Linked DNA regions of Homo sapiens: region 2 is linked to region 1. Evidence: fine-mapped expression QTL. A gene starts in region 1. The other region holds a variant in brackets. All regions are shown on one strand. Distances are from middle to middle.

Evidence for each region. PIP is the estimated chance that this variant, and not a neighbour inherited with it, causes the effect.
Region 2: its variant is fine-mapped to the expression of PTTG2 in whole blood (TOPMed, PIP 0.96).

What each region holds. Positions count from the first base shown.
Region 1 is chr4:37,955,917-37,967,334 of GRCh38, reverse strand. It overlaps PTTG2 (pituitary tumor-transforming 2), which reads right to left and starts at 6,937. Exons shown (of 1, transcript NM_006607.3): 1 at 6,207-6,937. The coding sequence starts at 6,900. The coding sequence ends at 6,325. All of the region lies in intron 2 of TBC1D1 (TBC1 domain family member 1), which reads right to left.
Region 2 is chr4:37,878,133-37,890,241 of GRCh38, reverse strand. No RefSeq gene overlaps it. Among named protein-coding and RNA genes, the nearest start is that of TBC1D1, 6.9 kb to the left of the region's middle. RefSeq lists an enhancer at 8,454-8,954. The variant T/A (reference allele first, on the strand shown) is at 6,857.

The sequences.
Region 1 (11,418 bases):
TTAGTAGAGACGGGGTTTCACCATGTTGCCCAGGCTGGTCTTGAACTCCTGACCCCAGGTGATCCACCCGCCTCGCCCTCCCAAAGTGCAGGGATTACAGATGTGAGCCACTGTGCCCGGCCCTCTTTTTTATCTTAATAAAATTCCTTTAAAATTGCCAAGTTTTAAACACAAATGAAGCTCTTTGTGAATGTCCTCACTCTTTTCAAAGCCTAAATTTATGTGCTTCAGCACTGAATTTTGGATTCGAATTGCACAGCAAGCACCTGGAAAAAAAAATGGTGCCACAAACCTCTGCAGAAATGCACAAAACAATTTGAATTTTTTCCTTTGTTGTAACTTAAGATTCCTACAAAAAGTCCACCAAGCCACAGGTACTTGCATGTCAACAAGAAGAATGTGCCTGGTAAAACTCAGTGTAATCTTCAGGTGCACTGAGCAAGCTCATCTTCCAGAATATAAGACCCAAGTGCCGAATTCCTAGGCAAATGCCCCTCTGAAAACCTTTAGATAAAAGGTGTCTCCAGGGCAGGGAACATCACACACCGGGGCCTGTTGGGGGGTAGGGGGCTGGAGGAGGGATAGCATTAGGAGAAATAGCTAATGTAAATGATGAGTTGATGGGTGCAGCAAACCCTATGTATCAAACCTGCACGTTTCGTACATGTATCCTAGAACTTAAAGTATAATAATTAAAAAAAGATAAAAGGTGTCTGTATACTTAGCAAAGAAACTCATAGATTATAAAATAAACCACCATCTGCATCTTAGTCTCTATGCGTAGCTAGAGAAGGTACATAATTGAAAATGTCCATTGGCCTTGATAGGAGATGTAAGGGCTGAGAAAATATAAGAAGGAAATAGTTTAGCTTCTCTTTTCCATTTGTGTGGGGATCCCACTCAGTTTTTTAAACGCTTCTAAGTAGTGATGTCTGAGTCATTGCTCTTCTAACCTGGAATTTTCCAAACAGGACAGAAGTTTTGCTCTGGGTGAGGTGAAGATAAATTCAGCTTTCAGATGAGGGTCAGGAGTCATCTAAAGTGGGTCAATCAATTTGCACATGGATTTGTGGAGTCTTTCTCTGTGTGAGGCAGCCCAGGCTGTCCAGGTGCTTGCTGCTAGCCTATACCTGCTGGCAACCAGCTATGTGACCTCAGACAGTTCATGTCACATTCTCTGAACCTGTTTCCACCTTGTAAATTGTGGGTATTAGGCCCACGATCTCCAAGGTCCCTTCCAAGCTTCCCTCAGGCATGTTGTGAAATATACGCTAAATTAAATGCCCATGGCCAGGGGCGATGGCTCACACCTGTAATCCCAGCACTTTCAGAGGGTGAAGTAGGTGAATCACTCGAGGTCAGGAGTTCAAGACCAGCCTGGCCAACATGGTAAAAGCCCATCTCTACTAAAAATACAAAAATTAGCTGGGCATGGTGGCACCTGTAATACCAGCTACTCGGGAGGCTGAGGCAGGAGAATCGCTTGAATCTGGGAGGTGGAGGTTGTAGTGAGCCGAAATTGTGCCACTGTACTCCAGCCTTGGTGACAGAGTGAGACTCCATCTCAGATAAATAAATAAAATAAATAAATAAATAAATAAATGTCCATGACAGGTTTGCACCTGGCAGCCTTCGCTCAGGGTCAAGGTAGAACTAAACATATCTGCTCACCGATCTCTAGGTCATAATATCACAAGAGCCCCGATGCTCCTGGAACTTTTCCAAATATCTAGAGTTCTTGTTCTCAGGGACAACACAAGTATAAAAAAGAATGCCAACTCAGTGCAGGGATCACCTCCCTCCACTTCAAGGTACCCCTGCTCCAAGATCAAGGGTCAGGAAGGATGAAAACAATATCCGCTGAGTACTTACTGCATGCCAGATGTTTTCATATATTATCTATCTCCCAACCCTAGATGGTAAGAATAATTGTAATAGTAATAAAACATAATGTGTATTGAGTGCTTCCTATCTGCCAGACACTGCTAAAACCAGCAAACCTTCAGGCAGCATCCACCATGCACCAGGCATGGTTCAAAGCATTTACAGCGCATGAGGTCGAGAGTATGAGTACCTATTTTTGGATGGGGAAACTGAAGCACTCAGGTGGGAAAGGAGAAAACCAGAATCAGGCCCAGGCACTCTGCCAACTTAACCACTTTACTTCACAGCCCCTAATTATGTTAAAACCCTGCTGCAAGGTATTACTTATTCTGTTTTGCAGATGAGGAAACTGAGGTTCAGGAAAGTAAAATAATTCACCAAAGGCCTCACCTAGGCACAGTGGAGCAGTGTCTGCGTAGACCACCTGTCAGCATCCCTCCAAGCAGGTCCTAACTGCTACAAACACAGGGCTTCATGCTCTAAGATTTCAGGGAGCTGGCATGGCCAAGAGAGGTTCTCTAGACAGACACCATGCTCTGGCAGCTTCCTGCCAATAGCAGGCTCTGTCAGGGAAGGAGCTTGGCCTTTTTCATGAGGCTGGGGACAGAGCTGATGCTAGCTAGATGAGATACAAATAGACATGAAATGGCAGCAGATTCTAAAGAACAAATGAACGAATGAGGTAGGAAGGAAGGAAGAGAGAAAGGAAGCAAATTCTTGTTGGGTCTGAGGCAGCAGGGCCCTTCTCAAGGGTTCAGCCAGGCCAGGGGCTAATAAGAAAGTGAGACCCGCAGTAGGCTGCCCCTTGTCCCCATCCAGGCTACGCTGGGACCAACAGGCCAAACTCCATCTGAACCCAGGACAAAGCAGGAGCTGTGCTGCCGGATCTCGGGAAGGCAGGCACATTGGTCCTTTCTGTGAAAAACTGGTCAGGCTAGTGGACAGGAAAACCCTGACCTCAGTGCCTAGGAAATTCAGTGGCAGCGGGCTTGGTCCTCGCCACAGCCTAATGGGAACCTGAGTGTCCAGTTGGATCCTGAGTCTCGAGTTGGATGTGTCAGTGGATCTAGCACGAGGTTTAGAATCACCTTACATGAAGTACAGCGCCCCGACCCTCCTTTCCAACTGTGAGACTGTGGTGCATGCACTGAAGCCTAGGGGACTCCAAGAAAGGGGCACACGGCCTCTCTGTGCCAACAAATGCTGCTTTAACTAATTTCATCAAGTGGTAATTTCGCATATCCAACCCTGGCCCATGTGTGTGCAGAGCACTGAACTTAAGCCATTGCAGTCACCATTGCAGTAATTCATTCAGCCACTCAATATCTATTGCATTCCAGTCCTCAGGGATGCTATAGTAAGCAAGCCACCTGCCCCTGCAGGAACGTCTTATGGTCCAGCAGGCCCATACAGCAAGGAAACAGGAAATGGCACAACTGGGTGATAAATGCAGTGAGAAGGAAAAGAGAGGGTGCTATGAAAGCTACAGAGAGGGCCCCTAACCAACATCAGGGACCCTGTAGTCACCCTGGTGTTTTAAGCAGGCACCAAATGCCAAGTACAAATGAGCCATTGGGGGGAAAAAGAGCAGGGATATCATTCCTAATCTACAAGGGAGTAGAGTCCGATATTGGATTTTTTTATTACAGTATTCTTGTTTCTTAGGATCTTAAAAATTATTAAATGTTTTTAAAACATTTAAATAGCATAATATAAGAGACACCCATGTAATTACTACCCAGTCTTAGCAGTTTCAGATATTTTGTACGTAAGTACATAAATGGGTATTTTTTTGACACGGAATCTCACTGTGTCACCCAAGCTGGAGTGCAGTGGCGTGATCTCGGCTCACCGCAACCTTCACCTCCTGGGCTGAAGCGATTCTTGTGCCTCAGCCTCCTCAGTGAGTAGCTGGGGTTACAGGCATGTGCCACCATGCCCGGCTAATTTTTGTATTTTTAGTAGAGATGGGGTTTTACCATGTTGGCCAGGCTGGTTTCGAACTCCTGGCCTCCAGTGGTCCGCCCACCTGGACCTCCCCCCTCCCTCACCCCCCACCTCAACTCTTTCTTGCTCTTGCTCTGCCATGTGAGAGGCCTGCTCCCTCCTTGGCCTTCCGCCATGACTGGAAGCTTTGTGAGGCCTCCCCAGAAGCTGAGCAGATGCCACTGCCATGCCTCCTGTACAGCCTGCAGAACTGTGAGCCAATTAAACCTCTTTTCTTTATAAATTACCCAGTCTCAGGTATTTCTTTATAGCGATGCAAGAATGGCCTAATACTGTACTTTTTGTGAGTCAGTTTAAAAATGAGTGTAAGCTAATAAGTAAATATGCATAGCTTCAACTAAATGATTTTTATGGACTGTAGCAGAGGACCTGGCTTGTATTTTCTTAATGGTTTCATGTCTCATGCCAAGGCCATCATATGCAAAGAGACATCTGAAAAAAAGTTGATGTTTATTGCCAAAGAAGTACTTAAACTGACTGTAATGAAGATGTTAAAGAGCTTCAGAGAAGCTGTATACTATTTCCGTGGGCTGACCACAGACACACTTTAAATCAAAGGCCAGCTGATCATTGGACTTAGGGTGATTTTTAAAACACTTTCTTTTTTTATCCAAGTTTTTATTCAATTCCCTTGACTTATTTCAGTTTAGAATTTGACTTCTTATTATCCTTATAGTAATCCTGAAAAAATTACCAAGAATAAAAAATATCATAACTACTAACATAACTAAGTCCACAGGATATTAGAACTGCAAAGATACCATATAGCTAAACCTCTTTATTTACAGGTGATGAAACTGAAGTCTGAGAGGTTAATTATTCATCCATCTAACAAATATTTATTGAGTTTCTACTCTGATATCATTTAGATCCTTACTATGCTAATAACCATACATAAATATGGCAGTAAACATTTAGAAATTTAAACGTTTAGTGTCTCTATCAACAGCTATAAGAGTAAAATTTTAGATGTTACCGGCTTGCCCAAGGTTGCATATCCATTAAACAGAGGAAGCAGGGTTAAGACCCAGGGAGTCTGACTCCAGTAATACTTCCTGTCTTGCCATGGGATACACCTATGGTTCTTGAATCCAAAATGCAGAAATATGAATCTTACAGGAGAATGAGGCCCTACCATTTACAGAATGTGATGTCTTCCTTTACAGATGAAATTTAGTTCTTCTGGTGAAGAGGACAATGGCTGGGTAGGAGCTTATGCCCACACCTAATGGAAACTTATCCTTGACCTGCGTGGCTACTGGCCCAAGATAAAGATTACTTGGAGCAGCCCACCACAGAATCAGCTCCAAGATATGGGGGAAGTACTTGGACACCATAGTGAACAAAACAGAGATGGTCCCTGCCCTCATGGGGCCCACAGTTTATTTGGGAAGACAGGCAATGTACAAGTAAATTCTCAAATATTTTATGATTTGTCTTGAATTTTTAAACTTAAACCTTCTCCAGTTTTAAAATAGCATGGAAGCAAAAATCAAAATGGAGTGGAGCAGATCACAAAATTGTAACTCTTCTCTAAGGACCAGTATGACAGCCTAGGACTGAGACCTTGCATCTTTTTTGGAGGTCAGTTCTGACAGCATCCTTTGATTGAAGAGGGATTTGGAAACTTTGGCCTGTCATGGCCTTTGATGGTTCTTAAATAGCCACATCTAGTTGGCTTTTTGTGGAATAACATGTTCAGAGACATAACCACCACTCACTTTCAGTAGAAAGAGCAAAACCACTAACATGTATAATGAATAGCAGCTCCTGGCCTAGGAAACTCACTAAGTCTTGGAATTCAGGAACCAGAGAGGAAACCCTGAAGCCTCTCAGGTGATCTGGATTGACACCAGACATCTGTGACTCTATCAAAGCTTTGTACAGAATTCAAGGCATGGACATAAAAGTGCTTTAAGTTGTAAGACATTAGCAGAATAAGATACGGGATTTCATGAACATTATTTAGCCATATAGACATTTTAAGATAATCAGTGTTAGTCCTAGCTGCAAATATGTTCCCTATTTTTTTTTAGCATTCCACAAAATTCTCATTCTTTTAATTATCTCCCTTTGCTGCTAGGACCTCCTTAAGGCTTTCATCTGGTTCACACTAGGCTGGGAAGAAAAGATGTAGAAGTTCTTGGCCTGGCCCTGGCCTTTTCTCCTTTATCCTTTGCTATTTCCTGTCTCCTGTTTCTCTACAGAAGTAAATCATGTTGACATATCCCCAAAGAGTACGGGCTGTAGTATGGAAGAAATATAGAAACAAGGGACAGCTGAGACAGATGCACATAAAGAGGAATATGACCCACTTTATATTTATGTATTTATTATGTTGTTAAACAAATAATGCTTTATTAATACAAGTACACACAAACTCCAAAGCACTAAGAAATTTAAATATCTATGTCATAGCAAACAGCTGGCAATTCAACATCCAGGGTCGACAGAATGCTTGAAGGAGACTGCAAACAGATTGCATTCCCATGGTGGAGAGGGCATTTTCACAGGTGAAGGGGGGCCCAGCTGAAACAGCTTTTCAAGCTCTCCCTCCTCATCAAGGATCATGAGAGGCACTCCACTCAAGGGGAGGTGTGCAATCTGGCGCTCTTCAGGCAGGTCAAAACTCTCAAAGTCTAGAAGATTGAAGGGAAAGAATTTTTCTATTTCTGGATAGGCGTCATCTGAGGCAGGAACAGAACTTTTTGTTTTAACAGTCTTCTCGGTCATCTTTTTGGCAGAAAAGCTTGGCTGTTTTTGTTTTCTGGGTCCATTGGTCTTTACTGACTTTTCTGTAGCTCTGTTGACAGTGCCCAAAGCCTTTCTGGTAGCTTTAGGTAAGGCTGATGGAGCATCGTATGTTTTGCCAAAACGTCGTGTTAAAACTTGAGATATCCCATCTAATGCTTTGATTGAAGGTCTAGACTCCAGCTTCAGCACATCCTTGGCAGCCACACGGGTGCCTGGTTCTCCAATTTCCTTATCAACGTAGATCAGAGTAGCCATTCTGGATTATTGCCGCTCTCAACAGCCACATTCATCTAAGACCGTGGTCCCACTTTATATTTAGATAGAATGTTAACTATAGTGGAAATTGGTGTAATATCTAATTTTTGTGCCTAGCACATCATCTGAGAGTTAGCATGAACTCATATAAAGAGCACAGGCCTGAGGTCAGACAAACCTGGGTAGGAATCTCGGGAGTACCACTTTCTGTTAGCTGTAAGATTTGGGCAAGTTAGCTAACATCCAAGCCCTATTTCCACATCCATAAAATGGAGGTAAAACCCAACTCTTACACATTGTTAAATGGTCAAAAACCACTTAGGTAAAGGGCAGAGCAACCAATAAATAAATAGTTTCTGCCGTTATTGCATTTTCTAATTTATAATGTACTTTTGCATACATTATTTCACTTCTTACTAACCTTTAATAAATGCAAGTCTTCCATTTTTTACTAAAGCAGCACCCCTGAAGTTTCTCTAAACTGCAAAATGCTCAAATGTTTCATCCCGAGTTATCCCTTTTGCCAACTCTGATCTACTGGTGGCAGACAATCCAGCATGCAGTGGTGGGGAGAGCCGAGAGGCCCTCTCTGAGCAACGTGACTACTAATGGTGCTTGCTTGGGCAGGAATACTGGACTATGGCAATGACTATATACCTTTGCCAACCCAACCCCAATCTAGTCCAGGCTATTGATTCACAGCAGCAAAGGGTCACTTCTGTTTCTAAGGCCTAGAGATAAGTTGAGGGCACTTTTGCAGTGAGCCATTTCAATTCAATGATAAATATTCTTGTTGTCTAATTCATTCTATGAATCTTTGACCCAGTGACATATGTGCGTACGTATTTGAGCCCATATGCAAAAATATACAGTTGAGTCTTGAACAATACAGGATTGAGTCGCATGGATCCACTTGTTCTCAGATTTTCTTCTGCGGCTGCCACCTCTGAGACTGCAAGACCAACCCCTCCTCTTCCTCCTCCTCCTCAGCCTATTCAACGTGAAGACAATGAGGGTGAAGACCTGTATGATGATCTATTTCTACTTAATGAATAATGCAATATGTTCTCTTCCTTATGATTTTTCTTAATAACATTTTCTTCAGCTTACTTTATTGTGAGAATACAGGATATAGTGCATAAAACATACGAAATATATGTTAGTCGACTGTGTTATTGGTGAGGTCAACGGAAGACTATCGGTTAAGCTTTTTGGGAGTCAAAGGTTATAGGTGGATTTTCGACTATGCAGGTGATTGGCGCCCCTAACCCTCACATTGTTCAAGGGTCAACTGTGCCTGTTTATTTGCATAAGGCCACCTCAAATACAAAGGGCCATTCAAAGGTATCATTAGAAGTCTTGCTCTTAACCTGACACAGCTAGCTAGAAAGTGACAGAGCCATGACTTGGACCTGGTATATCAACTGATTGATGTAACCTCTATATGGAGCTTGTAAATTCAAGTGCCACCCAGAGTCAGTGAGGGAATGTAAATATATGATGTGCCAGTGGAAGACAATGGGGAACGGGGAGACTGGTGGGGTAGAGTGTGTGTGCCAATCTGCAGGCATTCCAATTGAATTGTTTTTCTTCAAACACTATGGTAGGCAACTTTTACAATAAAGTTTGCAGGCCACCTGTCTGTAATCCTGTCTCATTATACCATTAGCAGGAATTATTATTAAACAACTTCTTTCAACTCTTCCGACACATTCATTTTTTATTAACAGCCTTCTAATAGTACTCTGAATTGGGGCAGAAATAATTAAAGTAAAAGATGTCATATATGTGTCCTAAAGAAGGGACAAATAAAGGAGGTCTAGAGGTGTGAAAGCAAATCTAATCCAGGAACACTTTCTGGAGGAGGTGGCATTTGAGCTAGGAGAGATGGAATGCTTAAGTAAGAGAAGGAGCTAGGAGAGACGGAATGCTTAAGTAAAAGAAGAGGAAATCTCCCCAGGCAAAAGAAACAACAATGAACAAAACAGAGGAAAGCATGGCTACGAGGAAAAATTAACTGTCCCATTTTGCTGGAAAATAGAGTACACCATCTTGGAACAAAAATAAAAAATATGAAGAATCATCTGGGACCAGATATGGTCAAGGTTCTTGATTGCCAAGCTAAGGAATCTGGTGTTTATTGGTTAGAGATGAAAATGGCCTGCTCAGAGAATGGGTTTTCTAGGAGATGAATCTGCTTTGTTGATCTTACAGACTCTTTCTTAATATGAAGCATACTTTTTTCCTAGACAACTTCAAATCTGAAAAATGTGTTACTATTCTTAGCATATGTTTTTGAAAGTAAACTTGGTCGCCATAAACGTATATGAGAAAAGGGGCATAAAAACTGGCAGCAAATCCAGTAACTGTAGCCATCTGTGTTTCTGTTGTTCTAAGCAGAGATCAACAAAAATAGCATTTTAAAAAACATATAAGTATGGTTGAAGTAATATTTTCCAGTGAAGCTTTCCACAAGTGGCTGCTGATAATTTTATCTGGTATTTTAAAATAAAATACACTACCTACAGGACACCATGAAAAACTATCATCTGTTGCATTATAAATGGAAGAATAAAAGGAAGGAAAGACAGAAGGGAGGGAGGAAAATGATATGTAGTTTGTCAGGAAATGTAAATCACATGTCAGAATTGACCTTTTAAAAAGTAATAATGAGCAATAAGAAAAACATCAAACAATCTGTTCTGAACTTTTATGAAAAAGTGGTGTAGGATAAAAATGGAGTTTGGAGTCAGAAAGACTGTTTTGGAATCTCAACTCTCTTCTCTTTCTATATTATTTATTTATTTGTTTTTATTTTTATTATTTTAAGAGATAGGACCTTGCTCTGTTGCTGAGGCTGTGATCATAGCTCACTGTAGCCTCGAACTCTTAGGCTCAGGCAATCCTCCTGCCTCAGCCTCCTGAGTACCTAGGACTACAGGCACGCACCCCCATGCCCAGGTAATCTTTTTATGTTTTGTAGAGAGGGGTCCTGCTGTGTTGCTCAGGCTGGTCTTGAACTCCTGGGCTCAAGATATCCTCCTGCCTTGGCTTCCCAAAGTGTTAGGATTACAGGCATGAGCCACTGTGCCCAGCAATACATATTCCTGTCAACAGATAAATTCCTTGTCTCTAAAAAGTAGTGTTATTTATTACTTTAATGATTGTGAAGAATGAAAACATGTGTCATATCAGGTATCATACATTTGTCTCTTTCCTTCTTTTGGAAAGGAAGAGATACGTCTGCCACATTGTGTAACTGTGGCCATGAGTATTATACAAACTCATGAGGGGCTTATGTTCTCCCATCTCACGTAGGGAGTCTAAATGTTTATGTGGTCAGCTTGATCCTTCCTGTAAGGGGAGGGAGGCCATGGTGCAGATAATCCCAAAGACCGGATAGGAGTAATTCTTTAAGTTTCACCGTGGCATGCATCAGTGGCTTCTTTGGGGGAAATTCATTTCTACACTCCCTTCTTTTTTTTTTTTTTCTTTTGAGACGGAGTCTTGCTCTGTTGCCCAGGCTGGAGTGCGGTGGCGCGATCTCTGCTCACTTCATCTTCCACCTCCTGGGTTCAAGTGATTCTCGTGCCTCAGCCTCCCAAGTAACTGGGACTACAGGTGTGCTCCACCACACCTGGCTAATTTTTAGTAGACATGGGGTTTCACTGTGTTGGCCAGGCTGGTCTTGAACTCCTGACCTCAAGTGATCTGCCCATCTCGGTCTCCCAAAGTGCTGGGATTAGAGGTGTGAGCCACTGTGCCCGGCTACACTCCACTTTTCTTAAGTTAATACTAACATTAGTTGGCGTCCCTGAGCATATCACATGAGGTCAAGGGGAAAAGACACAGAATGGAAGTACAGGGAAAAGCCATTTGGTCATTTTAAATGTGTTAAAGCACAATGAGGATAGTCTGCTGGAAGTTTATTCACTTCACATTCAATATGTATTGAGCACCTACTGGGGGCCAGGTACTGTCTAGTCTGTGGCAACACATCTGTGAGCAAAACAAACCAAAACCCCTGCCCTCGGGAAACTTACATCCTAGTGAAAAGAGAGTCAGACAACGAATGAAACAAATTTTTAAATGGCATAGTGTATTAGAAGTTCATTAAGCCGGGTGTGGTGGCTCATGCCTGTAGTCTCAACACTTTGGGAGGCTGAGATGGGTGATCGCTTGAAGTCCAGGAGTTCGAGACCAGCCTGGGCAACACAGGGAGAACCCCCGCTCCCATCTCTACAAAAAATACAAAAATTAGCCGGTTGTCATTCCAGCTACTCAGAAGGCTGAGGTGGGAGGATGGCTTGAACCTGGGAGGCAGATGTTGCAGTAAGCCTAGATCACGACACCGGTACTCCAGCCTGAGTGACAGAGACGTTGTTTCAAAAAAAAAAAAAAAGTTTATTTGAAGCAGATTATATGTATTTTGGGGGAAGATATTTATTTTTTATTTTTTAAATAGAGACAAGGTCTCACTATGTTGCCCAGGCTGGTCTCAAACTCCTAGACTCAAGC
Region 2 (12,109 bases), 77 kb after region 1:
TCCATTTCTAACCAATTGCGGGAGTGACGCAGAGCCTGGATTAGGCGCTTTTTCCTGCCCCGCGAGCCCGGCACACGCGCAGGAACACACACCACACGCACACGCACACCCCAGTGTGCATGCCCCGATCAGGTCTGGGGACATTCCCAGCGGTGATGTAGAGTGCAAGGAAAGACGCGGAGATGTGAAAAGCGGGACAGAGCTCGCTCCCTAAGACTAGGGGATGGCAGTGTGCAAAAAACAGGCGAAGCTCCCAGATCCCTATCCCACCAGGCACAGAGGCGCAACGTCACTCGCAGGGTGGGGAGAGGGATCTGAGAAAAGTAAGAAGCATCACATCCTCTCCAGAGAAGAGTCCGCAGGGAGGGGAGAGCCGGGTGCTCGGAGGAGGCAGTTCCAGACCCCCAGGTGGCATCTTTCTGGATTTTTTTACTTAATGTAGCTGGGGGTGGACTTTAGGGAAGTGGCTGAGCGTTTGAGCTGTACGGTTGGACTTGAATCCAAATCCCAGCAGGTGTGGTTTAGGCAAGGTGCTGGACCTCTGGTCTTCATTGTCTTACCTGCTAAATGGGACCAATACACACCTTACAGGATCTTTGTGAGGACAAAGCAGGAAAGTGTAAGTAAAGTGGCCAGTGCAGTGACACAGACGTACATGGTCCTCAACTAAAAGCAGCAGCTATTATCAATATTACTGTGGCCCAGGAGGCAAATAGAGGGCCAGGTTTCCTCATCGTACCAAGAGCAGTGTCTTCCTTGAAGCCCACTGAGCTTCTTGTAGGCTTTTAGATTAGGGCTGTCTTATGGCATTCCCTGATTTCCCTGGATGCTTACATCCAGGGGAGGTATTTTTAAGTGGACCCAAGAGTTTTATTCACAGCTTGACTTAAAACTCTCACAATAGTGGTAGCTATTCTTTACGGAGGAGTTAGTCGATTTGGGGTATTGTGCTAGATACTGTCCTTATATATTGTTGCTAATTTGCTCAAAAACTCTGCAGGGCAAAGATTGTTAAATCCATTTGACTAAGGAGAAAAGTAAGAGGTTAGTGCCTACAGGGTTAGTGGGTGCTGGAATCTCCAAGATCCAAAGCCCTTTATAATATACTTGCTCTCTGGCCACTGTGTAGCCCTCAGCTCATTCTTTGTCATTGAGTAGTTATTTGTGTGCATAGCCTCAACTCTTTTTTAAGAAATATACAGTCATAAATACTGTAATGAGTAGAATGTTAACTGGGTTATGGAAATTATTCTTTAGGTTACAAGACCAGGTAAACCAGTTAAACCATATTGTTATCACTTGGGTCATATCCCAAATTATTTCATGTTTTTACCTTCAACTCTGTTGTAGAACTCTCTCTCCCTGTCTGCAGTGACCTGCTGCACACATTTACCTCCAGAGTGCTAGGAGGTCGAGAAAGGTACACTAGCATTCATTTCATTGACACTGTAAACTGCTTTTTGTATGTAACCCACCAGAGGATGGTTGAAACTGTTACCTAACAACCCTGCTTGCCAGGCCCTGCTCCTGGGAAAAGGGGTCAGGCCAAGGGGAACAGAGATAATTTGCTGGGCTCTGCTTACAGAACATCCTGGCTAGAGCCCCCTCCCATCCTGCCACTCCACTACCTTTTCTTTCCCTCACTTGCTCACCTCCTCTACCCTCTCTTCACCCTTACCCCTAGTCCCAGAGTACAGGAAGGCTTAAGTACAGGTAGGCAGCCAGGCGGGGTGCCTAACCAGAATACAGATGTAGGAAGTCGATGGGTGGGGCCCAGATGCAGGCCCAGGCCTCATATCTCTCAAAGCATTGACATCCAGCAAGTTCCAGCTCAGAGATTTATAATTTAGTGGCAAATGACCATTTGCCTTGACCCTTACCTAGGTTAGGGAGAGGTCATGGCCTTGTGAGAAGCAGCAATTTCTGCATCACTTTTCCAGCTCCCAGGACAGCTAGCACCCTAAGAATGATGAGGAGGGATTTTACCATACTTTCAACTTCTGGGAAACAGAACTCCCTCTATAGTATGCAATAAGGATTGTTGAAATTCTTTTTAAAATCTATACAGCATTATCTTAGAAATTAGGGGACAGCTTGCTATCAATCTATTTGGCCTTAGGTTTTCTAGCAGTTGTAGAACAAATAGTAAAGGGGACTTTGAAGCAGATGGTGATACCTGGTATGGCAGGATGAAGACTGTCAAATGTGGTTGGGGAGATCCATACTGGCCCAGTGCAGAGTGCAGAAGTAAGAGCTCACCACTCAGCTCTTACCTGCAGGTGCCATTGCTCTAGGAGGGAAGTAGCTCCTTCCCCTTGATATGTGGCCACGTGACTCCCAGGAGAGCTGGTACACACCATGGTAGAAGCGTGGGCCAATGGGGCCTTGGTGATGGCAACAGAGAGCTCCCTCAAGGCCCAGGAAGGTGTTCTGTTGGTCCCTCTTTAAGTCACCGATAACAAAAGCAAGCAGAGAATAGGGCCAAATGCTCCAATGATTCTGCTTCAGCTTCTGATTCTTCTGACGGAGTATGACCCAGGAACACAAGGAGTGTGGAGCTCTTCACCACCATGGGCATTTAGCTGACATCAGCTATGGACCCATTGGCTCAGCGAGTGAAAACCCTGATGCGAAGGCACCGACCATCATGGCTGCTGCACTTTTCCTGTCTGGACAACTTCCGCACCTCCAGCTCTTCCCAAAATCCTGCCATGGATCATTCTTTTAGGGCTTCTCCCATAGACTCTTTCCTAATTTAGCTATTTGCAGCATAATTAGTTATTCATTGCCAAAAGCCAGGAACATTAATATCAGCTTTAAGATGGCTGCAGAGCTCTAGAAAATTGTGAACCATCGATGCTATTAAATCACATGAAAAGCTCAGAGCCTGAAAGAAAACAGAGGCCACTTTACTTTTAAAAAGTTAAGGGAACCATGGGAACCATATATACATCTAGAATTAAAATCTTTCGTTGATGTAGAAAGAAGACCTTTAACAAAATTAATCATCATTAAATCCATCAGTTAGGTATTTAAATGCTCATATTAGTTAGGAATCCAAACTATTGCTATTATATATTTTTACTTAAATTCAAAATGTGCATAATAAGGTAGTGGGTCCATTTCCAAAAAATGGCATCAATAAAGGCAAAAAATAAGACTATACTGGCTAGAACCCTAGGATAGTAAGGTGGTTCACTGGGTATGCTTGTTCCCATTGATTGATAGTGACTTTCTGGAGCCCTGAGTGGACGAGGCTTGTAAGGCAAGTCCATGCTCAGTGGGAAAGGGTGCAAGATTGAGAAGCAGCACCTGCCTCAAGCATGGGAGGAGGCAGCATTGCAACACCAGCGCCAGGTAATTTGCCAACCCTGTCAATCCAAGGCATAACAGTTAGATCTAAAGAGTTTGTGAAGGCTGGGGTGGTGGCTTATCCTATAATCCCAGCACTTTGGGAGGTTGAGGTGGGCTGATCACTTGAGCCCAGGAGTTGGAGATGAGCCTAGGCAACATGACAAAACCTCTATAAAAAAATACAAAAAAAAAAAACTTAGCTGGGCGTGGTGTTGCACACCTGTAGTTCAAGCTACCCAGGAGGCTGAGGTGGGAGGATGGTTTGAGCCCTGGAGGTTGAGGCTGCAGCAAGCTGTGATGACACCACCACACTCCAATCTGGGTGTTGGAGTGAGAAACTGTCTCTAAATAATAATAATAATAACATAGAGTCTGTTAAGTTATGCCCAAATATCTTGTTTTCTTTCTTTTCTTTCTTTCTTTTTCTCTTTCTCTTTCTCTTTCTTTGTCTTCCTCTTTCTTTTTCCTTCCTTCCTTCCTAGCTTTCTTCCTAATTCTTTCTTTCTTTCCTTTGGTTTTGTTTTCTGAGACAGGGTCTGGCTCTGTTGCCCACGCTGGGGTGCCGTGGTGCCTTCGTGGCTCACTGCAGCCTCGACCTCTTGGGCTCAAGCTATCCTCTGCTCAGTGTTCTGAGTAGCTGGGACTACAGGCGCACACCACCACACCCAGCTAATTTTTAAGTGTTTTGTAGACACAGGATTTCGCTGTGTTGCCTAGACTGGTCTCAAACTCCTAAACTCAAGCAATCCACCCACATCGGCCTCCCAGAGCGCTGGGATTACAGACGTGAGCCACTGCGCCCAGTTCCCAAATATCTTAATTAACTATAAGAAATATTCTTCATGACAAGAAAATGAAAATCAAAGTCAGAGACTATATTACATCCAATTGTCTGCAATACTAGATCCCTGAAATTGCTTTCCGAAAGGCATAAGATTAATAAAATATGATGCAAAAAATTAAAATGAGCAGATAGCCAACATAGATTTTAGAATTTCAGCAATTGAAATAAACAAAAATTTTACTGCACGAAGAACTCACGCTTACAATGCAAGAGACAACGGTAAATCAATGCAGTGAGAGAATGGGTGGACTGTATACTTAAGCCCCAGAGTAGGCTTCTGTGAAGTATCTAATCTCCTTTTATGGACAAAGCAGATAAAACTCTGGGCACTGGTTCCACTTCCTTTTCCAGCAACCTCTCCTATTTGTCATTGCTCTACACAAGCAACTGCTCCACGCAGCTCTCTGACGATGTCCAGCCTTTACTTGGGGTTCTCACTTTCCACCCGAGCTGGTTCCGTGGGTCTGGGCACCAAGTACAAAGTTTGGCAAATGTTAGATGGCACGTCATTTTTAAATTATGATATCTAAATTTGTCTAAGGTCAATGAGAATTTTTTTGTAAATTGTCAGAGCTAGTTATGGATGTCGATGATTTTACTCAGACTGGGTAAGCTGACTAAGCTCTCTACCCTGCAGCAACCCCACTTCATTTTACCCCAAATGCCATTGGTGGTACCTAATGTGTAATCTCACCTAGAATGCAGGAGCTGCTAACTGGTTTCCCTGATTCGGCCCTCACCACCCTGCAGTCTATTCTTAACATAGCAGCCACTTGAATCTGCTAAAATATCATTTGGGCCATGTCACTGCTTGGCTTGGAATCCTCCCATGGCTTTCCAGATTCCCTGGAGTAAAAGTCAAAGTCCTTATAATGGTTTAGAGGGTCCTACAGGATCTTCTTTCTCAACTGCCACACCACTACCTCTGTCCTTTATCACCTGCTACCAGCCTTGACTCACTCTGCTCCAGCCACACTGGCCTTGCAGTTATGCAGAGCTGCCAGGCACACTCCTGCCCCAGGGCCTTTGCATTTACTCTTCCCTTTGCTAAGTGTACTCTTCCCTCAGATATTCACATTGGCCCCTCACTTACTTCACTTTGTTTAAATGTCACCTTCTCCATGAGGCCTTGCTGACCAAGTTTTTGAAAATGGAAACCACAGCTACGCCTACACACACACACACACACACACACACACACACACACACACCTTATCCCTTTTCCTGCTTTATATTTCTCCATAGCATTTACCTTCTAATGTACTATATTGGTTACTTGTATATCTTATTTGTCATTTGTTTCCCCCTCCGCCTTCCATGGGAGCAGAGAATTTTGTCTGTTTTATTTGCTGCTGTATCTTCAACTCACAGCATGGAGCCCAACACATAGTAGGCATCCAATGAATATGTGCTGAGTGAATGAATGAATGAAAAAAATAATTTGTAATATATAACATTTTTGAGTTCAATACATGTCTTTATATAGAAAGAGAGGAAAACCTAGAAATTCTAATCTAATAGAAGTACTATCTATTAGATTAGAATTTCTAGGTTTTCCTCTTGCTTAGAAATTCTAATCTAATAGAAATACTATTAGATTAGAAGTACTATCTATAGAAGTACTATCTATTAGATTAGAATAGAATCTAATAGAAGTACTATTAGATTAGAATAGAATCTAATAGAAGCGCTATCTATTAGATTAGAATTTCTATGTTTTCCTCTTGCCTAGAAATTCCAATCTAATAGAAATACTATCTATTAGATTAGAAGTACTATCTATAGAAGTACTATCTATTAGATTAGAATAGAATCTAATAGAAGTACTATCTATTAGATTAGAATAGAATCTAATAGAAGTACTATCTATTAGATTAGAATAGAATCTAATAGAAGTACTATCTATTAGATTAGAATAGAATCTAATAGAAGTACTATCTATTAGATTAGAATAGAATCTAATAGAAGTACTATCTATTAGATTAGAATAGAATCTAATAGAAGTACTATCTATTAGATTAGAATAGAATCTAATAGAAGTACTATCTATTAGATTAGAATAGAATCTAATAGAAGTACTATCTATTAGATTAGAATAGAATCTAATAGAAGTACTATCTATTAGATTAGAATAGAATCTAATAGAAGTACTATCTATTAGATTAGAATAGAATCTAATAGAAGTACTATCTATTAGATTAGAATTTCTATGTTTTCCTCTTGCCTAGAAATTCCAATCTAATAGAAATACTATCTATTAGATTAGAAGTACTATCTATAGAAGTACTATCCATTAGATTAGAATTTCTAGGTTTTCCTCTTGTTGACAGCTCATTAGATTTCTCAACTGTCCTAAGAGGTATGTCAATAGTTCCCCCCAAGGTGAGCTAAATGTTGAAGCATGTGACTCCTTCTTTAACCATCAACATAGACTCTAATTTCAGATATACTATAGAAGGACTTTAGAATCAGGAACAACTGAGAACTCATCAGCAGTCAAAGTTTGTTAGAAGTTTGGTTGAGAAAAATATGACCTTGGAGACCAGCATGAAAGATAATGCAGTTCAACTGGTCCTCTAAAATCTGGATCCCCTAAAATCAGTTCCTTATCAGATCAACCCAAGTGAAGATCCATTTGCCTGGAGTGTATCCAGAAAA[T/A]TTTTTTTTACTGAGTTTCACTTTGATATTATTCCATTGGTCCATAGTGGGGGAATGCATTTTATAAAAATACTCTATTCAGTCTGAAGATATTATTGAGGGTGTTTATTAATACCTTACACAGTGTCCTTTTAAAGAGAATCCAAGAAAAAGTTTCTCCTAGGACTCCACTAAGAAAAACTTTTCTTTCCTTGAGCAACTGATTTTATCTCCATCCTTGCACTGACCGTTTGGGGTTCACTGCTTGGCAGGCATCCAGGACATTTTGTGTGCTAAGTCAGTGATTCACAAATGCCCTTTCCAAGCCATTGCCAGTTTGTGCCACTTTTCATCTATCCAAGACAAACTATAAATAACAATGTGTAACTTCATAAAAGCAAACTGAACTTCTCTGTCTTCTGAGATCATGTTCTTCCTACCTTATAGGTACTAACAAATAAGTATTTCTTTTATGAAATTACGGTGAGAACCATATGGTGAGATCCATTGCTTTGTGCTTGTTTTATAATGTCTTTACTTGGCAAAAGAACATTATAGCGCCCCCTTGTCAATTCCTAGTGTTTGGAGAAATGTTACTGGTTCAGAAAATCCAAAGTCTAGGAGCAGTGGTTTCTACCTAATTCCTAGCATCATTCTATCTCACCTACTACCCTCTCCTTTCGTCCTGTTTTCTTAATTCACTTTGAATCATTTTTTGTTTACAAAAAAAGTGAATACATTTAAGCCATCTTCAATCATTCCTGGGATGTGGTAGAAATATGAGTGAGTGAGTGAATGAATGAATGAATAAACAGACTTGTACAGGCAGAGAACATACCAACTCGCCTGCAGCTCCACACTACATCAAATGTTCTCACTCATTACCACCTTGTATGCTACCTGTATAGTGTGTACAGTGTGTTGTAATTTACAGATCTCATATTATTTAACCCTCTCAGCAGCCCTCAGAGGTAAACGTTATTTCTCTCCCTCATTATAGAGAGTTGGAGTTGTCCTAAGGCAGAAAACCTGTGGGGGAGAAATTGGGGTTTTAACCTGGATATTCTGTCAGCAAGCCTAATTCTTTTTGTCTATACCATATTACTGCCTTTCAAACTAATGTTTTTGAGGGTGATCATGTTTGGAGGTGTTTTGATTTGTGTGGGGGAAATGAGAGTCTGGTTATTTCCTTGGCTTTCAGAATAACATTCCTTATTGCGAGGTGTTCCTGGTTGGGCTGCGCTTCAGCTGGGGCTCTCTGACCCTTTAACTTCTCGGGAGCATCCACAGAACCAAGGTTTCCTTGATCAGCACACATTGAAGAAACGTGCTCCGGGGCAGTCTCTTTTTGCTCACTTTTCTATTGCATAATAATTCATATTGTGCCACAGCATTATAGTGGGAGGTTGCTTCATTACTTTGTAATTTCTTTTAACATTAAAGCTGAGCTAGAGACATTCAGCCTTCTCATTTTCTTGTTGGTAAATATGAAATGTAGGATGAAGTTCTCCTTTACTCAAAAGAGTGTGGGTCCTTGGATAGGAAGCTTAGAGAAATCATTAAGGGGGAGGTAGAATTTACCAAGATTTCCAAAGTGGCAGGTAGTTACCGCAAAGGGGTTAGTAGTCTTTCAACCAGTAGAGATGCATAGATGAGCTATTCTTTCCATGGCTCTGAACTAGGCACTGAAGTGATGCAAAGAAATATGAGACAGCTTCCTTGTCTTCAGCATCCTTACTCTCTTCTAATTCAGGGTTGACAAACTACTAAAAGCCCATTTAGTAAATATTTTAGGCATTGCAGGACATTCCATCTCTGTCCCACCTTTCAAATCTGTAGCAGTGGCCGGGAACAGTGGCTCACACCTGTAATCCCAGCACTTTGGGAGGCCACGGTGGGCGGATCACGAGGTCAGGAGTTTGAGACCAGCCTGGCCAATATGGCGAAACCCCGTGTCTACTAAAAATACAAAAATTAGCCGGGCATGGTGGCGCATGCCTGTAGTCCCAGCTACTCAAGAGGCTGAGGCAGAAGAATTGCTTGAATCCGGGAGGCAGAGGTTGCAGTGAGCCGAGATTGCGCCACTGCACTCCAGCCTGGGCGACAGGGTGAGACTCCGTCTCAAGAAAAAAAAAAAAAAAAAAAGTCTGTTGCAGTGCAAAAGCAGCCACAAACGCTATGCAGACAAATGAGTATGGCTGTGTTCTAGTGAGTATGGACGCTGAAATTTGGATTTCATGCATTTTCACATTGTCACGAAATATTCTTTAAAAAAATTTTTCCAACCATTTAAAAATGTAAAATCCATTCTTAGCTCATGGGTCATACAAAAACAAGTAGCCGGATTTGGCGAGCAGGACATAATTTGCTAACCCTGCTCTAGGGCAAAGGTTTTTAACTATTTTTATAGTATAGATCCCTTTGCCTGTGTAATGAAGCCTATGGAACCTTCCTCAGAATAATATTTGTAAATGCCTAAAATAAAATAAATAAAATACATTAATAATGAAGTTCATATGTTATGATATCATGCTTTTAAAAATATATGTTGATATCTGTATTTCCATGTAATTGGCTACAAATTATATGGAAGGCTGGGTACAGACATTCAGCCTTCTTCTCATTCTTTTGTTGCTAAATATAAAATGTAGGATGACATTCTCCTTTAAGAGAAGTTCTCCTTTAAGTAACCAATTATATAGCCAATTATATAAAATTCTCCTTTAAGTAACCAATTATATGGAAATACAGACATCAACATATACTTTTAAAAGCATAATATTGTAATATATGGACATCATTATTAATGTATTAAATAACAAGATTTGCCCACAGGTATAATAACTACCATGATTTTGAGAGTGATAAAAATATATGATATTCTGAGATACTTGTTACAACTGAAATGTGACATGAAAATCAATGATTTCTATTGATGACAATGTCATGGGGAGTGATAATACTATTATGGTTTGTCACCTAAATTTTTAAAGGCAGAGAAATGTAAATTGTGATTAGAACTGCTAGAAGTAACTTAAAAAATGTATTTTTATTTTCCACCCAAGTTCACTGACCCCTTGGAGTGTATGCACAGAACCATCAGAGAACCTTTGATCTTAGGTTAAGCACCCATGAGAAATCAGTGACAAGACTCCATAAATCTGTGCATAATCCCTCCTTAATGTTCTGGAATCACAAGAGGCTAAAGCCTCTTTAAATTTGAACATTTCTTGAAAGGAAGAACTCATACCTGTCTCACTGACCAGCATCGGATGGTCTCAGACCACTTCCTGGCTATGTGAACTTGAACAAGTTATTTTCACTGAACTCTGGTGTGTCTATGTGTCTGTGTCCCCCCGCTTTTTTTTTTTTTTTTTTGAGACGGAGTCTGGCTCTGTCGCCCAGGCTGGAGTGCAGTGGCGTGACCTCGGCTCACTGCAAGCTCCGCCTCCCGGGTTCACACCATTCTCCTGCCTCAGCCTCCAGAGTAGCTGGGACCACAGGCGCCCGCCACCACGCCCGGCTAATTTTTTGTATTTTTAGTAGAGATGGGCTTTCACCGTATTAGCCAGGGTGGTCTGGATCTCCTGACCTTGTGATCCGCCCGCCTCGGCCTCCCAAAGTGCTGGGATGAGGCGTGAGTCACCGCGCCCGGCCTATGTGTCCCCTCTTTAAGATGACGGGAATAAAAATAATAGTACTTATCTTATGTTGTTGATAGGGTTAATGAGTTAGTAAATGTAAAACACTTGGAACAGAACCTGGCATGCAGTATAGCACATCATGCTCATTGTCATTATTCAGTGATGTAATTCTCTCTTGTTCTTCCTTCTCTGGATGCTATCAGCTCTTTCATGTAGCCTTCTCTTCTCTTCCTCTTTCTGTAGTGGGGAACAGGAAGCTAACCCAAGAGGATGTTTTCTTTCAGGTAAAAATTCAAATAACTTCAATCTTGGCTGGGCGCGGTGGCTCACGCCTATAATCCCAGCACTTTGGGAGGCCGAGAAGGGTGGATCACCTGAGGTCAGGAGTTCCAGACCAGTCTGACCAACATGGTGAAACCCTGTCTGTACTAAAAATACAAAAATTAGCTGGGTGTGGTGGTGCATGCCTGTAATCCCAGCTACTCAGGAGGTTGAGGCAGGAGAATTGCTTGAACCTGGGCGGCGGAGGTTGCAGTGAGCCAAGATCGAGCATTGCCAAGATCGAGCATTGCACTCCAGCCTGGGCAACAAGAGCAAAACTCCATCTCACAACAAAACAAAACACCCTTCAATCTTTGGAAAATTAAGACTTCAGGAATTCAGCGGTTGTGCTGCTGCAGAAACACTACAATGATTGCTTTAAGGAAAAGTTTGGAACATTCTTCCTCCTTTAAATGGTCAACATTTTGCCAGGGAGGGCAGGGAAAGCTTATCCAAACTGAGTAACATTTTTAAAGTTAAAATTTAACAATGTAAGAAGTCTTTCAAACCCTGTTTCCCCTCCCACGATGAGATGTTGTAGGGAGCTAATAGGTACACAGGCAAGCACAGTCAGGGTTGGGCAGTTCTAGCAGGTGTGGAGAAGACTCACAAGTCAAATGGATATAATGCAGGATAAAATATAACAATTTTTTTTTCTTTTTTCGAGATGGAGTCTTGCTCTGTCGCCCAGGCTGGAGTGCAGTGGCGTGATCTCAGCTCACTTCAACCTTCGCCTCCCGGGTTCAAGCAATTCTCCTGTCTCAGCCTCCTGTGCAGCTGGGATTACAGGTGCCCGCCACCAAGCTCGGCTAATTTTTGTATTCTTAGTAGAGACGGGGTTTCACCATGTTGGCCAGGCTGGTCTCAAACTCTTGACCTCTAGTGATCCACCCACCTCGGGCTCCCAAATTGCTAGGATTACAGGCGTTGAGCCACCGTGCCCAGCCAACAAAATGTTTAAGAGGCACAGTTATACCCCCAAAGAAAGAGAGAGATGTTTCCTAGGTGCTTAAACTAGTGTGAACTAGCCAGGCGCAGTGGCTCACACCTGCAATCCCAGCACTCTGGGAAGCTGGGACGGGTAGATCTCTTGAGCCCAGGAGTTTAAGACCTGCCTGGCCAACATGGTGAAACCCTGTCTCTACAAAAAATTCAAAACATTAGCCAAGCATGGTGGTGCATGCCTGTAGTCCCAGCTACTTGGGAGGCTGAGGTGAGAGGATGGCTTGAGCCCGGGAGGTCAAGGCTGCAGTGAGCCATGATAGCGCCACTGCACTCCAGCCTGAGTGACAGAGTGAGACCCTGTCTG